Homo sapiens: one gene and its partners. The protein of the gene in region 1 purifies or fractionates together with the protein of each later gene. This does not show direct contact. Each region holds a gene or a part of one and is shown in the gene's direction. Other genes may lie near its edges.

The links.
Region 2: the proteins of DKKL1 (region 1) and AFG2B purify together in Homo sapiens (affinity purification with mass spectrometry; 2 studies listed by BioGRID and IntAct, with this or other methods). This does not show direct contact.
Region 3: the proteins of DKKL1 (region 1) and FRAS1 purify together in Homo sapiens (co-immunoprecipitation; 3 studies listed by BioGRID and IntAct, with this or other methods). This does not show direct contact.
Region 4: the proteins of DKKL1 (region 1) and NUCB1 purify together in Homo sapiens (co-immunoprecipitation; 3 studies listed by BioGRID and IntAct, with this or other methods). This does not show direct contact.

The regions. Positions count from the first base shown.
Region 1 is NC_000019.10:49,365,769-49,371,107, forward strand, and holds part of DKKL1 (dickkopf-like protein 1 isoform 1 precursor), read left to right. Parts: intron 1-24; coding exon 25-117; intron 118-2,936; exon of another isoform or gene 2,937-5,339. UniProt on the Homo sapiens protein: Involved in fertilization by facilitating sperm penetration of the zona pellucida. May promote spermatocyte apoptosis, thereby limiting sperm production. In adults, may reduce testosterone synthesis in Leydig cells.
Region 2 is NC_000015.10:45,408,508-45,412,335, forward strand, and holds part of AFG2B (ATPase family gene 2 protein homolog B), read left to right. Parts: intron 1-1,864; coding exon 1,865-2,023; intron 2,024-3,828. UniProt on the Homo sapiens protein: ATP-dependent chaperone part of the 55LCC heterohexameric ATPase complex which is chromatin-associated and promotes replisome proteostasis to maintain replication fork progression and genome stability.
Region 3 is NC_000004.12:78,448,495-78,452,322, forward strand, and holds part of FRAS1 (extracellular matrix organizing protein FRAS1 isoform 1 precursor), read left to right. Parts: intron 1-1,656; coding exon 1,657-1,845; intron 1,846-3,277; coding exon 3,278-3,397; intron 3,398-3,680; coding exon 3,681-3,828. UniProt on the Homo sapiens protein: Involved in extracellular matrix organization. Required for the regulation of epidermal-basement membrane adhesion responsible for proper organogenesis during embryonic development. Involved in brain organization and function.
Region 4 is NC_000019.10:48,913,484-48,917,311, forward strand, and holds part of NUCB1 (nucleobindin-1 precursor), read left to right. Parts: coding exon 1-81; intron 82-3,828. UniProt on the Homo sapiens protein: Major calcium-binding protein of the Golgi which may have a role in calcium homeostasis. Acts as a non-receptor guanine nucleotide exchange factor which binds to and activates alpha subunits of guanine nucleotide-binding proteins (G proteins).

The DNA.
Region 1 (5,339 bases):
CACTCTCTCATCGGATCCTCACAGATGACCGACAACAAGACAGGAGAGGTGCTGATCTCCGAGAATGTGGTGGCATCCATTCAACCAGCGGAGGGGAGCTTCGAGGGTGATTTGAAGGTTAGGACGTGCCCCGCCGTCAAAGTGTCCAGGCCCAAACATTTTCTTTTTTTCTTTTTTAAAGAAGAGTCTCACTCTGTCACCCAGGCTGGAGTGCAGTGGCACGATCTTGGCTCACTGCAACCTCCGCCTCCGAAGTTCAGGCAATTCTCCTGCCTCAAGCTCCTTGGTAGCTGGGATTACAGGCACCTGCCACCACGCCCGGCTAATTTTTTGTATTTTTTTAGTAGAGACAGGGTTTCTCCATGTTGGTCAGGCTGGTCTTGAACTCCTGACCTCAAGTGATCTGCCCATCTTGGCCTTCCAAAGTGCTGGGATTACAGGCATGAGCCACCATGCCTGGTGAGGCCCTAACATTTTCTGTAGTTTAGGAGGACAAGAAGAGGAACTGACCCTCTTACTCCTCTGTGTGGAACTTCCTCCTTCTGAGCCTCAGTTTTGCCATCTCTCAAGTGGGGCAATCCAACTGTCAGAAATGAGATTTTTGACCTCAGAATACATCTGCAAGGGTTTAGTAGACCCTAGAGGGTTTTGTATCAAAGTGGTTTTCTTTTTTTTTTTTAACTACATAATAGTCAATCAAAGTGTTTCTATGAGCACCAAAATGTTTTATAAACCAAGAAGGGTTTTTAATTCTAAGTGCTTGGAAAGCTTCACCCTCATAAACCCCAAATTGTGTTTTTGTCTCAAAGTAAGTGCTCTGCAAACTTCAGAGTATTTTTCAATCTATCCCAAAGTGGTTGGTAAACCTCTCCATTATAAACTCCAAAATGTTTTTGTTGTTATTGTGGTTTTGATTTTTGGGGTTTTTTTTGTTTGTTTTTTTGGTTTTTTTTTTTGAGAATGGAGTCTTGCTCTGTTATCCAGGCTGGAGTACAGTGGCACAATCTCAGCTCACTGCAACCTCCAACTCCCAGACTCAAATGATCCTCCCACCTCAGCCTCCGGAATAGCTGGAACTACAGGCGCGGACCACCACACCCAGCTAATTTTTCTATTTTTAGTAGAGACGGGGTTTCGCCATGTTTCCCAGGCTGGTCTCGAACTCCTGAGCTCAGGCAATCCGCCCGCCTCTGCCTCCCAAAGTACTAGGATTATAGACATGAGCCACCACACCTGGCCCAAAATGTGATTTTCTTCTTCTTTTTTTGTTTTTTTTGAGATGGAGTTTCGCTCTGTTGCCCAGGCTAGAGTGCAATGGCACAATCTCAGCTCACTGCAACCTCCGCCACTGAGGTTCAAGTGATTCTCCAGCCCTAGCCTCCCAAGTAGATGGGACTACAAGTACGTGCCACCACGTCCAGCTAATTTTTGAATTTTTAGTGTAGACAGGGTTTCGCCATGTTGGCCATGTTGGCCAGGCTGGTCTCGAACTCCTGACCTCAGCTGATCCACCTGCCTCGGCCTCCCAAAGTGCTGGGATTATAGGCATGAGCTACTGCGCCTGGCCCAAAATGTGATTTTTAATACCAAAGAGCTGTATGAATGCTAAATGCGTTGTGTATTTCACCTTTGGTAAACTTTTTTTTTTTTTTTTTTGGAGACGAAGTCTCGCTCGTCCCCCAGGCTGGAGTGCAATGGTGCGATCTCAGCTCACTGCAACCTCCATCTCCCAGGTTCAAGTGATTCTCCTGCCTCAGCCTCCTGTGTAGCTGGGATTACAGGTGACTGCCACCACACCTGACTAATTTTTCTATTTTTAGAGAGACAAGGTTTCATCATGTTGGCCAGACTGCTCTTGAACTCCTGACCTCAGGTGATCCAACTGCCTTGGCCTCCCAAGGTGCTGGGATTATAGGCGTGAGCCACCATGCCTGGCCAGGCCACCTTTGGTAAACTTCTACAAGTGATTCTAATTATGAAGTGCTTTGCAAAATCAGGGTATTTTTAATCCTGAAAAGTTTTAAGAAACCCAAAGAGCTTGATACATCCATATGATACCCACGTACACCCATGCAATATCTTCATTTTAAAAATGTTTATTTAAAATTTTATTTTAAAAATTTCAGGACAGGCACAGTGGCTTACACCTATAATCCTAGCAATTTGGGAGGCTGAGGCAGGAGGATGACTTGAGCCCACGAGTTTGAGATCACCCTGGGCAATAGAGGGAGTCTTCATCTCTACAAAAAAATTTAAAAAGTAGGCCAGGCATGCTGGCTTACGCCTGTAATCCTAGCAATTTGGGAGGCCAAGGCAGGCAGATTGCCTGAGCTCAGGAGTTCGAGACCAGCCTGGGCAACACGGTGAAACCCTGTCTCTACTAAAATACGAAAAATTAGCCGGGCATGGCAGCCTGCACCTGTAGTCCCAGCTACTCTGGAGGCTGAGGTAAAAGAATTGTTTGAACCCGGGAGGCAGAGGTTGCAGTGAGCCAAGATCATGTCACTGCACTCCAGCCTGGGGGACAGAGTGAGACTCTGTCTCCAAAAAAAAAAAAAAAATCAAAAAAGTAGCCAGGTGTGGTGGTGTGTGCTGTGGTTCCAGCTACCCAGAAGCCTGAGGTGGGAGGATTGTTTGAGACGAGGAGGTTGAGTCTAAAGTGGGCCCAGATCATGCCACTGCACTCTAGCCTGGGCAACAGAGTGAGACTCTGTCTCAAAAAATAAATAAATAAATAAATAAATAAAATTTCAAGACTACAGAAAAGTTTTTTTTAAAAAACATACTTTATTATTTTGGAAATGGAGTCTCCCTCTGTCACCCAGACTGGAGTGTAGTGGTGCCATCTTGGCTCACAGCAACCTCCACCTTCTAGGTTGTGGAAAGTAAAAAAGTTTCTCTTTAAAGTTTTTATTAAATAATAAATCACAAGTGTTAGAAATAATATTTTTAATTAACTTTTTTTAAGCCTCTTTGCTTTGTGTTAGTAACTCTTTTTTAAACCATATCTTATGTAGTTGTTAGATATAAGGAAATAAGTACCTTCTGTGTCCTTGTACGTTAACCAAGATATTTGGTCTCGACGTGCTCAAGCATGTCCCAGCTCACAGCTTATGCCCTTTCCTTATTTGGAAATGTTATTACTTCTCCAAGTCTTTTGGCAAGCAACTTCCTCTTTTCCTTTGTTCTCCATTGCCTTTACCTATTTAAGAAAGTTTTTTAAGTTGTTAGCCAATTGGGTTTAGCTTAGACTGTGAGGTCCAGCTCCAACCAATGGAGACAGGACACAGCAGTAAGGACCCAATGCATAAGGGATAAATATTCCTGCCTTTCTTTGTTCATTGTGCTCTCCTGGCAGGATTGCTGATGGGCAGCACCCTTTCTACAGAAAGTAAAATTGCCTTGCTGAGAAAACTTTTTGTCTGAATGCTAATTTTTCCTTGCGACACCAAGAAACAAGCATTTTGATTCTAACACAGGTTCAAGTGATTCTCCTGCCTCAGCCTCCCAAAGAGCAGGGATAACAGGCACGCACTACAATATCCAGCTAATTTTTTTTTGTTTGTTTTTTGTTTTTTGTATTTTTAGTAGCGATGAGGTTTTGCTATGTTGGCCAGGCTGGTCTTGAATTCCTGACTTTGGGTGATCCACCCACCTCGGCCTCCCAAAGTGCTGGGATTACAGGCAAGAGAAGTTTTTCTTAAAATAGTACAACAGATTTTAGGCTCTTCTGTATCTGCCCACCGAGCTACTCTGTTCCTGGCTTAGAGAACCAGGAGAAGGGGAAGGGGAATCACCTGCCACATGCTGGAGGTTGGAGCCTGTGGCACCATGGCTTGCCTCACTGCAGTTGGTGGTGGCAACAGAGGCTGCAGTGTGGCCAGAGTGGCTTTTCTGGCTTTGCCCGCCCAGCCACTCTGAGAAAGGCTGGAGGAGAAAGTGAAGGAGGAGTCACCTGTGGTGAGGTGGAGTTTGGAGCTTGCAGATGGCACGGCTCTGTGGCTCACCTCCTACAGTTGTGGCGGTGACAGCGAGGGAGACTTCAGCCTGACTGGAGTAGAAGGGTGCTCGTGAAGGCTAGAGTATTGCCTCCAAGATGCAGCAGTGGATACTCAGGTTTCAGGAGACTCCACTGTCCATGGCGAATCCATGGTCTGCCAGCGCAGTTTTAGAGAGAGAATGTGCCACCGCAGGTGTCATCCTCATGTGCACCCTGGCAGGTAGCCATCTGAAGATTTCAAGGACAACCTGGCAGGGGAGCAGACCAGCGACACTTCCTCTGAACAGGTTCTTGCTGTTCACTTGACAGACTCAGCAACTCAGGCAAGTGTTCACATGGAAGATATCCTGGAAGGATACCAAGCCAGTGAAAGCTCAGATGAAAATGCCCCATGGCTTTGGAAGGCCAATGAATGTGCCAAGGAAAAAGGTGCCATGGAGGATCCTCTGGAAGACCTCGCCAATGAAATTTCAGATTAGGACACCCCACTGGATTTGAAGGCCAAAGAACGTGCCAAGGAAAAAGTTCCCATGGAGGATACCCTGGTGGAAGACCTTGGAAACGAAAGCTCAGATAAGGATGCCTCACTGGACTTGAAGGTTGACAAACGCATGAAAGAAAAAGTTCCCACAGAGGATACCCTGGTGAAAGACCTTGCCAATGAAAGCTCAGATGAGGACGCTCTACTGGATTGAAGGCTGATGAATTCACCAAGGAAAAGTTCCCACGGAGGATACCCTGGTGGAAGACCTTGCCAACAAAAGCTCAGATGGGGATGTTTTGCTAAATTTAAAGGCTGACAAATGAGCCAAGGAAAAAGTTCCCATGGAGGATACCCTGGTGGAAGACCTCACCAACGAAAGCTCACATGAGGATGCTCCACTGGATCTGAATGCCGACAAATGTGCCAAGGAAAAAGTTCCCATAGATAATCCAGTGAAAGAATTTGCCAACAACATCAAGGAAAAGGAGGCCCCATGTAATGTGAAGGCACCCTAGGGAGTCCAGGTAAATGATTTCAAGGATGACCTGGCGGGGATGGTGATCAGTGAAAAGTCCCCAGAAGCAGCCCTATCTCTTCACAGGGCAAAATGAGATGCCAAGAAAAAAGATTGCTTCGCCATTCTTGTAGCAGAGCTTCCTGAAGAGATGTCCTCAGGGCAAGTGCTGGCCGTTGTCACCGTGAAAGGCATCAAGAAAAATGGTGGCTCTGAGGACAGCTTTTCTAAAACCAGTAATGACAAAGACTCTTCCTGTAGTGGAGACACTCAAGCTTCTGGAGCAGATATGGAAGAGTCCAATCATGCAGATGACCATCAGCATATGCCAACAAGTACTC
Region 2 (3,828 bases), on another chromosome or scaffold:
ATGTTCCCATATGTCACCACAGTATGGTGATGTATAGTGTTGTGTCCTTAGAGCCTCACATGTAGAGGCACAGAGTGTACATTGGTTCCTCATTGGTGATGCTAACTTTTATCAACTAGTTCAGGCAGTGCGCAGTTTCTCCACTGTGGAACTGCTATTTTTCCCTTTGCCACTAATGAGAAATCTGTGGGGAGACACTTTGAGATATCCTGCTCCTCATCAAACTTTCAGGCTGGGCACAGTGGCTTACACCTGTAGTCCCAGCTGCTCAGGAGGCTGAGATAGAATGATCACTTGAGCCCAGGTGTTCGAGGCTCAATGAGCTGTTGCCTCAATGCCACTGCACTCCAGCCTGGGCAGCAGAGCAAGACCCTGTCTCATAAATGAATAAACTTTTACTCCCCTCAACATAGCATCCAATTCTTGCTCATAACAGCCTTTACTATCATGATTGCAAGACGGGCGATTTTTTTAATTCCAATATTCCCTCTACCTCATTTTGAATTGAAGAAATTTAGTTAACACAGTAATGAATGAGTACTGGTTCTTCCTGTCATATTGGCAGACATTTAAGAGTTTGGAAATGGGCCACGTGCGGTGGCTCACACCTATAATCCCAGCACTTTGGGAGGCTGAGATGGGTGGGTCAGTTGAGGTCAGGAGTTCAAGACCAGCCTGGCCAACATGGGGAAACCCCGTCTCTGCTAAAAATACAAAAATTAGTCAGGTGTGGTGGCTCATGCCTATAAATCCCAGCTACTCGGTAGGCTGAGGCACGAGAATCATTTGAACCCAGGAGGCGGAGGCTGCAGGGAGCCAAGATCACAGCACTGCACTCCAACCTGGGTGACAGAGTGAGACCCCGCCAAAAAAAAAAAAAAAAAGAGTTTGATAATGTCTGTACTGGAGAGGTGTGGAGAGAACACAGCTTCATATTATCGGAGAAGAATAAATTGTTGCAGCTTCCTTAGAGGACAATTTGGTAATAGCTGTCAAAATTGTATATGTGTGTACTTGTAAACCCAGTAATTCTACTTTGAGGAAATTATTACATAAAATACTTGAACATGAGTTTGAACATGGTGGCTCATGCCTGTAATCCCAGCACTTTGGGAGGCTGAGGTGGGAGGATCGCTCGAGCCCATGAGTTCCAGACCAGCCTGGGCAACATAGGGAGACCGCATCTCTACAAAAAAAAAATATATATATTTTTTTAATTAGCCAGGCTGGTGGCACATACCTGTAGTTCTAGCTACTCCGGAGGGTGAGGTGCAAGGATTACTTGAGCCTGGGAGACTGCAGTGAGCTATGATAACATCACTGCATTCCAGCCTGGGTAACAGAGTGAGACCCTGTCTCAAAATAAACAAATACTTGAACATGAGCACAAAGACTTTTTCAGTTGCAGCTTTGTTTTTAATATCTAAAGACTGGGGATGACCTAACGTTTGTCAGAAAGGTGTAGTTGGGGTAAATTCAGTAGTGTATTATGGAATTGTCAAAAAGAATGACGTAGAACTGTGTTAGTTGACATGAAAAGCTCTCTAAGATAGGTGAAAGAAGAAAAGTACAGGCTGATATAGTATGGTTCCATTTGTGTATCTGTTTAAAAGGATATATGTATGCTTACTAGCATAACATACTGGAAAAATACACAAACTCTTGACATCTTTCGGGGAAGAATTACTGGCAGGAATTGGCAGGGAGACATTTAATTCTTTGTACTATGTATATAAATTGTTTTTATAATGATAACAAAATAACTTTACAAATCCAAAAGAAGATTTTAAAAACAAATTGTGCTATAAAAAAAGACCAACCTAATTTTTGGTTTGATTTTGCTTTTTTGGGTGTATTTCTTCAGAACCAGGACAATCCTGTGATTGATGAAATAGACTTCCTTGAAGCTTTTAAAAATATTCAGCCCTCATCGTTTCGAAGCGTCATTGGATTAATGGATATCAAGCCTGTTGACTGGGAGGAGATTGGTGGCCTTGAAGATGTAAAACTGAAGTTAAAACAGGTAAGACAGATAATCTACTTAATCCAGTAGGATATTACAGATTAACATTCTGTGCATTTATGATGACAACATACTGCGCTGAAACTGCTCTTGCTCCTATCACTAATGTGATCCTAACATCTAAATCCAATGATTGCTTTTCAGTCCTTATTTAATTGGACTTCTGTGGATGTCTAAACTGGTTTTTATAATTTCCCACCTCGACCCTCTCTTTGTTTTTGCTTTAAAGAGTTTATAACCTAAGGCTGGGTGTGGTGGCTTATGTCTATAATCCCAGCACTTTGGGAGGCCAAGGGAGGAGGATTGCTTGAGTTCAGGAGTTCAAAACCAGCCTGGGCAACATAGCAAGCCCTTGTCGCTATTTAAAAAAAAATAAGTTTATAATCTAAGGCTGGGCGCAGTGGCTCATACCTATAATCTCAGCATTTTAGGAGGTTGAGGTGGGTGGATCACCTGAGGTCAGGAGTTCAAGACCAGCCTGGCCAACATGGTGAAACCCCGTCTCTACTAAAAATACAAAAATTAGCTGGGCATGCTGGCAGGTGCCCATAATCCCAGCTACTCGGAAGGCTGAGGCAGGAGAATCACTTGAACCCGGGAGGCAGAGGTTGCAGTGAGCCAAGATCCCACCACTGCACGACAGCCTGGGCAACAGAGAAACCGTGTCCGGGGGGAAAAAAGTGTATAACCTATAGTCTTAGCACTTTAGAAGGCCGAGACAGGAGGATCTCTTGAGGCCAAGAGTTCAAGACCAGACTGGGCAACAAAGTAAGACTCCCCATCTCTATTTAAAAAAATTATTTTGACACATGTTTGCTCTGTCACCCAGGCTGGAGTATTGTGTCACAAACACAGCTCACTGCACCCTTGAACTCCTGGGCTCAAGCAGTCCTTCTGCCTCAGTGCCCCACCAAGTAGCTGGGACTACAGGTGCATACCACCACGCCTGGCTAATTTTTAAATTTTTTGTAGAGATAGAGTCCCACTGTGCTACTCAAGCTGGCCTTGAACTCCTGGGCTTAAACAGTCCTCCAACTCGGCCTCCTAAAATGGTGGGATTATAGTCATGAGCCACCATGCCTGGCCTACAAAAAATTTTTTTAAATTAGCCAGGTGTGGTAGCACGTGCTTATGGTCCTAGCTACTCAGGAGGATCACTTGAGGCTTGACCCCAGGACACCCAGGAGATCGAGGCTGCAGTGAGCTATGATTGCACCACTGCACTGCAGCTTGGGCAACAGAGCGAGATCCTGTGTCTTTAAAAAAAAATTAAAAAACAATTTTGACTGGGCATGGTGGCTTACACCTGTAATCCCAGCACTTTGGGAGGCCGAGGCAGGCAGATCACCTGAGGTCAGGAATTAGAAACCAACCTGGCTGGCATGGAGAAACCCCATTTCTACTAAAAATGCAAAAAATTAGCCAGGCGTGGTGGCGCATGCCTGTAATCCCAGCTACTCAGGAGGCTGAGGCAGGAGAATCGCTTGAACCCGGGAGGTGGAGGTTGCAGTGAGCCAAGACCACGCCATTGTACTCCAGCTTGAGCAACAAAAGTGAAACTCCATCTCAAAAAAACAAAAACAATTTATAGGCCGGGCGTGGTGGCTCACACCAGTAATCCCAGCACTTTGGGAGGCCGAGGCAGGAGGATCACGAGGTCAGGAGTTCAAGACCAGCCTGGCCAACATGGTGAAACCCTGTCTCTACTAAAAATACAAAAATCAGCCAGGTGTGGTGGCGCAAGCCTGTAATCCCAACTACTGGGAAGGCTGAGGCAGGAGAATCGCTTCAACCTAAGAGGCTGA
Region 3 (3,828 bases), on another chromosome or scaffold:
GACAAATGTGAACCTCTAAAATTCTTTGGACCAAATGCTTATGTCTGTGAATTAGAGAAAAGATTGAGAAGAGTTTATAATATTTCCAGGGCCCTCAAAAATCTTAATTTATTCAACTCCTCCTAGGCCCAGGTTTCCTCTAACATTACTCCCATTCAACAAACCCCATGGAAACAAATAACGAAATATAGCAGAATTTTTAAGACGCTTATTTTTTTACAAAATGCATGGAGGGTAAGCTGGGAAACCATCATGCATTAAAAGTGATTATACAAATAATTGAGAATTATCAGATATGGTATTCTAGGGTTTAACATTCACAATTTTGCTCATGTTTAAGCAACATTGGAGGACCTGTGACAAGTGTGAGTCTTGAACAGTTTGCAGTAGGAAGTTACTTAATTAAGAAGTGGACCTTTTGCCCAGGGTGTCTGCATCTTACTAGAGTTCTGTTGTTTGTTTGTTCTTAGTTTCATGTGTATTTTGCAGTGAAAAATGTATGGTATAATAGTATTGGAAAACTTGGTAGTTCTCAAAGGTCTTAAATATCAAGTCTGAGATTTGACTTTATCCTACTTATAAGCTAATAAACTATCCTGTTACTGTTTCATGGATGCTGGTAGAAGATACAAGATTCCTCCATCAGAAATACGGCACTCTTGTTACTTATAGCACAGCAGGCAGCATGGGCATCAGCAGGTTTGCATCGGCTCCCTCTGCCATCCCAGTCCCATAGGGGTGATGTAGAGGGCCCAGACAGACACTTTCGTGTGCAGTAGGATGCATCACAGAGGGGAATACTGAGCTTGGGGAATTCTCCATGTTACAGCAGCAGAATGCAAGTCTTATTTTTGTCTGAGAGGAAGACATTACCTCATCCCTCAAGGTTGCTCTCTGAGAAACGGCCTGGGTAAAGCATGGTCAGGGTCTTGTGTTCTTGGTATTACCCACTAAGAACATGTCACTCCAAACACCAGGATGTATTATGCATGAATAACTAGGCTCTACTTTACCGGGATTTACTATTTTTAACATGATAAAGCGGCTGGGTAATAAAGCAAGTGACAAGACCCTGAGAAGAGGAGTTTGCCATTAGCCAGGGCCTTATCTTCATCCCCAACACCTGCGCAGTGTCCAGGGCCCAGAGGCTCAGATCTCCTTGCTCCTAACATCCTCTGTCCTGAAGGATGCTGATTTTCACTACTTTGTCTGACATGGCAACAAGATATGTTTGAGTTTATGTAAAGCTATATTTTTCTGATTTGGTGATTCTCAAGACAGTAAGTAAACTAAATCCAAGCAGGTTTCATCATAGATCTAGGAGTTATTTTTGTCACAGAACTGGGAGTTATTCCACAGATCTAGGTATTAACTGGTAGGTCACTGAGTCGGAGGAGCATAGGAGAGAATGAAAATGGATCAGAAGGAAAAAAGTGCTTAGGTGTTGACTCAAGGGAAAATTAGTAAATTGAAATGTCGGTACTCTTTCACTAGGGAAATTATAATTTATTCAGCTGGAAACTGAGAAGGGCAAGTGCCTGGTACCTAGATCCAATGAATATGTGATAATTTAGCCTCCAGTCTCCTAAAATCATTTGACATCCCGTTCAAAGGAAATGTTGGGGAATAACCTACTCTCTTCCGTTCTCTTCCAAGGGTCTGTAGCACGCATCACAGAACAGCACTTGAAAGTGACAGATATTGACTCAGATGACCATCAGGTTATGTACATCATGAAGGAAGATCCTGGTGCAGGGCGCCTGCAGATGATGAAGCATGGCAACCTGGAGCAAATTTCTATTAAAGGCCCCATCCGAAGTTTCACCCAGGCAGACATTAGCCAAGGTCAGCCAGTTCTCTTCTGCCTACCAGGCTTCCGTGGACTGCACCTACACTAGTAAAATGAGAATTAAATATCTGGTAGTCTATGGCAATAAACTGTGCACTCTTTGTTTTGAGGAGCTTCATTTGTTCTCTTCCTTGTTTTCTTATTTTTTTTTTCTTTTTGTTTTTAAAAAAGCCCTATCTTTCTTGGTTGAAATGTGTTCATGCTTTGACTTAGCATTGGTGGCATTTGCAGCTATTTTGGAGAGAAAAAGTTATTTTGACTTGCTGTGATGCTAAAAAGTATATATGAGAGAGAGAGAAGGAAAAAAGAAGTGAGTTGGGATGGATTAAGGTGAAAATTATGCCTTCCTTAGGTGAGCAATTTATATCTCTTTTCAGCTCCCCAAAGAGCACAAGTTAATGAACTAAGCAAAATGGAAGGGCATAAATCGGAGCTGCCTAGGGGAAATTACATGGCACATCCCTCCATCAGGAAATGCTGATGTAATGTAAAGGCATAAATGTTAAATGCTACGTAGTTACTGTACAGTGCTTTCAGGGATACAAAAGGGAAAAAAAGTTATATATTGGGGAAAACGTAATCCACAGTCTTGTGATTATGTGCAATTCTGTTTAGAAGTGGAAATATACCCCTGCGGATAAAAAACAAGTGTCCCGCCCACACACTAACACCTAAAATTGACAACAGCTGAATTCTCATTGGAACTGGCTGTGCTTTAGTGAAGGGGAGTGGAAGAGGCAAAAGGAAAGTAATTCCTTAATTATTTCATATGTCGGTGTCTACTTTTAAAAGATAAGACCAGCCCCCTCTTCCCAGAGATTTGGTTATATTTACACAACCAAATTGAAAGATGCTTTTAAGTGATGCTGTAGGTTAACAAAAATGTAATACATTTTTGTTGTACTTCTCCTTTTAGATCCTTTTGAGTTCTATGTGGAGTTTATTTGTTGGTTGGCTATAGCCCATGTTGCTCCGTGAACTGGGCAATGAAAAGTGAAGAGTTCTGGGAGAATGTGAGGTGCAGCTCTGTGTCTTCTTGCCCTTGTGATTCCAATATATAATAGGGTCACTCCAGGTGATGTGGGTGTGGTCAGTGCACATTTACACATGGGCAGTTTTGTGGATCTCGTTTTCATGAGGTGTCCTTAGAGGCTGAGCTGATCTTCCAAAAAGGCTCAGCCTTAACCATGAGAAATGTCACTTGGGGTGATTTTGTTATGAGAAGGTCTTTGGTTATGAGAAAGTAGATGGTGGGAGAGGAAAAGGAGGAAATGAAAACTTTAGATTAAAATGTCAAAAGCAGTGTCAAAGCGAGGAAGGTGTGAACTGATTCATTGGTGTGAACACCAATTGAATTCACACCTCTTGCTTCAGAAATAAGGGCAGAAAGCACTAATAGCAAATCTTGATTTTTTTTCCTTTTTATAGGCCACGTAGAATATAGTCATGGAACAGGAGAACCTGGAGGGAGCTTTGCTTTTAAATTTGATGTGGTTGATGGAGAAGGCAACAGATTGATTGACAAGTCATTTTCCATCAGCATTCTAGGTAAAGAGACATTTGATTTTCTAATATAAAACTATTTTAGCAGTTCTGAGGTTATATAGTTTACACTTTGTTCACCTCGAGGCTCGAGTCCTTCCCTTTACCTAGCTGGTGTGGAAACTGAAAATCATACCCCCTTTATTGCACGAAGCCCTGGCTCCTTGGTGTGCTCTCTAACACACAGGCCTAGAGATGACTCTGACCTTACTTCTTGGCACCAGGCCTAGAATTAAAGAAAGGAGGCTGAGAAGATCCCATTTCAAATCACTATTTCTGATATTTTCAGAAGACAAATCCCCACCAGTCATCACCACCAATAAAGGACTGGTCTTGGATGAAAACTCAGTGAAGAAAATCACCACCCTGCAGCTGTCTGCCACTGACCAGGACAGTGGGCCTACAGAATTGATCTACAGAATCACCAGACAGCCCCA
Region 4 (3,828 bases), 450 kb from region 1:
CCCAGTTGAAGGAGGTGTGGGAGGAGCTGGATGGACTGGACCCCAACAGGTTTAACCCCAAGACCTTCTTCATACTGCATGGTAAGGTGGGGAGGGAGTTCCAGAGCCAGGATGAACCCTAGATTCTGACCCTTCTAGGACCTGAATGCTAAGAGGGGTGTGTCTGTCCCAGGAGGGCTTAGTCAGGCCCAAGAGCCAAGCCTATGTCCCCTGGTTGACCAGACAGCCCTGCCTCTCCCGACTACAAGGCTAGGATCTGCATGGAAGGGTTGGGCCTCTTTTCTAGCAAACACCAGACCTCGGGGTTCTAAGGACAGCTGGTGTCCTCTGTAAGCAAACCAGGCTTGGCTAGGCCTGGGCCCTCTGCCCACAGCAGCCCAGGAGAAGCCCTGGTCCACTCTGGGAACCCTGTCGCTAGGAGTGGGTTGTTCCCTAAGAACCAGGCCTCCAGAAGCCTGGAAAACCCTTTCTCTTTTTCTTTTTCCTTTTTTTTTTTTTTTTTGAGATGGAGTCTTGCTCTGTTGCCCAGGCTGGAGTGCAGTGGCATGACCTCGGCTCACTGCAACCCCCTGCCCTCCGCCTCCCGGGTTCAAGTGATTCTCCTGCCTCAGCCTCCCGAGTAGCTGGGATTACAGGCATGCACCACCATGCCCGGCTAACTTTTGTATTTTTAGTAGAGATGGGGTTTCACCATGTTGGCCAGGCTGGTCTCGAACTCCCAACCTCGTGTGATCTGCCCCCTCAGCATCCCAAAGTGCTAGGATTACAGGCGTGAGTCACTGCGCCCGGCCTCGAAAGCCCTTTCTCTATGGTGGATCAAAGGCACACTCCCCTCAGTCTGTCTCTTCCTGTCTGGAAATGTGGCCTGGGGTTGCCAAGCCCCCTCAGGTATGCCAAGCACCCTGTCCCAGAATCTGTAGCCGGTCAGATAAGCTTAGCAAGGCCTGACTCATTCATTCAGCAAACCTTTCCTAAGTTCCCTCTAAGGACCAAGCTTTGTCAAGACCCCGTGGATACAACTGTAAACAAAACAAAGTACCTCCCCCTCAGAGCCAGTGATCAGGCACACAGATCATACCATACTTTAGTAACTCCACGAGACTGTACAGTATGAGAGGTGCTAGCATTTTACGTAAGCTGCCAATTAAATTAACGTACCATTGAAAACAAGATGCGTCCTGGGCTGGGTGTAGTGGCTCATGTCTGTAATCCCAGCACTTTGGTAGGCCAAGGTGGAAGATGGCTTGAGCCCAGGAATTTAAGACCAGCCTGGACAACAAAGTGAGACCCTGTCTCTATTTAAAAAAAAAAAATAGACCAGGCGTGGTGGCTCACGCCTATAATCCCAGCATTTTGGGAGGTTGAGGTGGGAGGATCACCTGAGGTCAGGAGTTCAAGACCAGCCTGGCCAACATGGTGAAACCCCATCTCCACAAAAATACCAAAATTAGCTGGGCATGATCGTGAGTGCCTGTAATCCCAGCTACTCAGGAGGCTGAGGTGGGAGAATCACTTGAACCCGGGAGGCAGAGTTTGCAGTGAGCCAAGATCGTGCCATTGCACTGCAGCCTGGGTGACAGAGCAACACTCCATCTCAAAAAAACAAAGAAAAAAATAAAAATTAAAAGTTAAATAAATAAAGATACATCCCTATTTCAGGGGTGATAAAATAGAAGAACACAAAAGTGCATCTCAGAATCAACGAAGGTTCTAGGCCGGGTGTGGTGGCTCACGCCTGTAATCCCAACACTTTGGGAGGCCTAGGCGGGTGGGTCCCTTGAGGCCAGGAGTTGGAGACCAGCCTGGCCAACATGGCAAAACCCAGTCTCTACTAAAAATACAAAAATTAAAAAACAAAACAAAAATTAGCCAGGCATGGTAGTGCTCACCTATAGTCCCAGCTACTCAGGAGGCTGAGGTAGGAGAATCGCTTGAACCCGGGAGGCGGAAGGCGGGGGTTGCAATGAGCTGAGATCACACCACTGCACTCCAGCCTGGGCAACAGAGTGAGACTCTGTCTCAAAAAGCAATAGAAAGTAAAAAAGAATTAGAAGATTCTGTAATGGGGTCTCAGGTAGTGACGTGTACTACCTCGCAGCCTTGACCACCCAGGTTCAAGTGATCCTCCCCCTCAGCCTCCCAAGTATCTGGGACCACAGGCACGTACCACTATGCCTGGCTAATTTTTTTAATTTTTAGTAAAGGCAAGGTTTTACCATGTTGCCCAGGCTGGTCTCAAACTCCTTTGCTCAAGCGATCCACCTATCTTGGCCTCCCGAAGTGCTGGGGTTACAAGCATGAGCCATCCCACCGGGCACCACCCCCCGTGTTTTGTTTTGTTTTTTTTTTGAGACAGGATCTTGCTATGTTGCCCAGGCTGGAGTCAAACTCCAGGCCTCAAACAATCCTCCTGCCTCAGTCACCTGAGTAGCTGAGACTGCAGGTGTGTGCCACTGCGCCCAGCTTTAAAGATGTTTAATTGTACAGTTCAATAGTATTAAGTATATTTACACTGTCATGCAACCAATTCTGAGAGCTCTTCATCTCGCACAACCGAAACCGTATCCATTAAACCACTCGCCCTCCCCTTCTTTCCCCTGCTCTCTAGCAACCACCATTCTATTTTCTGTCTCTATGATTTTGACTATTTTAGGTACTTCATGCAAGTAGAATCTTTTGGTATTTGTCGTGTGTGTGTGTGTGTGTGTGTGTGTGTTTGGCTTATTTCACTTAGCATAATGGTGAGGAACTGAAGTTTTCATTCTACTGGATATTAATTTCTATTTCAATTGCCCCATGTGGCTAGTGGCTGCTGTACTGGAGTCCCAGCACAGCTCTAGAGAGGACATTTGGGCTGGATGCGGTGGCTCACGCCTGTAATCCCAGCACTTTGGGAGGCCGAGGTGGGTGGATCCCTTGAGTCCAGGAGTTCAAGGCCAGCCTGGGCAACATGGCACAAACCCATCTCTACAAATAAAATACAAAAATTAGCTGGGTGTGGTGGCGTGCATCTGTAGTCCCAGCTCCTTGGGAGGCAGAGGTGGGAGGATCACTTGAGTCCAGGAATTCAAGGCTGCAGTGAGCTATGATCATACCAGTGCCCTCCAGCCTGGGCAACAGAGTGAAACCCTGTCTCTAAAAAATAGAAAATAGGCTGGGCTCAGTGGCTCACGCCTGTAGTCCCAGCACTTTCGGAGGCCAAGGCAGGCAGATCAGGAGCTCAAGAGATCGAGACCATCCTGGCCAACATAGTGAAACCCCGTCTCTACTAAAAATACAAAAATTATCTGGGCATGGTGGCACGCACCTGCAGTCCCAGCTACTCAGGAGGCTGAGGCAGGAGAATCACTTAAACCCTGGAGGTGGAGGTTGCAGTGAGCTGAGATCATGCCACTGCACTCCAGCCTGGCAACAGAGCGAGACTCTGTCTCAAAAATAAATAAACAAATAAATAGGCCCGGCGCAGTGGCTTACCCCTATAATCCCAGCACTTTGCGAAGCCAAGGCGGCTGGATCCCTTGAGACCAGGAGTTCAAGACCAGCCTGGGCAACATGGCAAAACCCCATCTCTATGAAAACAAATACAAAAATTAGCTGGGTGTGGTGGCGTGCATCTGTAGTCCCAGCTACTTGGGAGGCTGAGGTGGGAGGATCACTTGAGCCGAGGAGTTCAAGGCTTCAGTGAGCTACGATCACACCATTGCACTCCAGCCTGGGTGACAGAGTGAGACCCTGTCTCTAAAAAATAAAAAAATAAAAACCTTATTTAATCTTTTTAATCAGGCAGTCCCTACAGACCAGAATAGGTTCAGAGCAACTCCCTATACC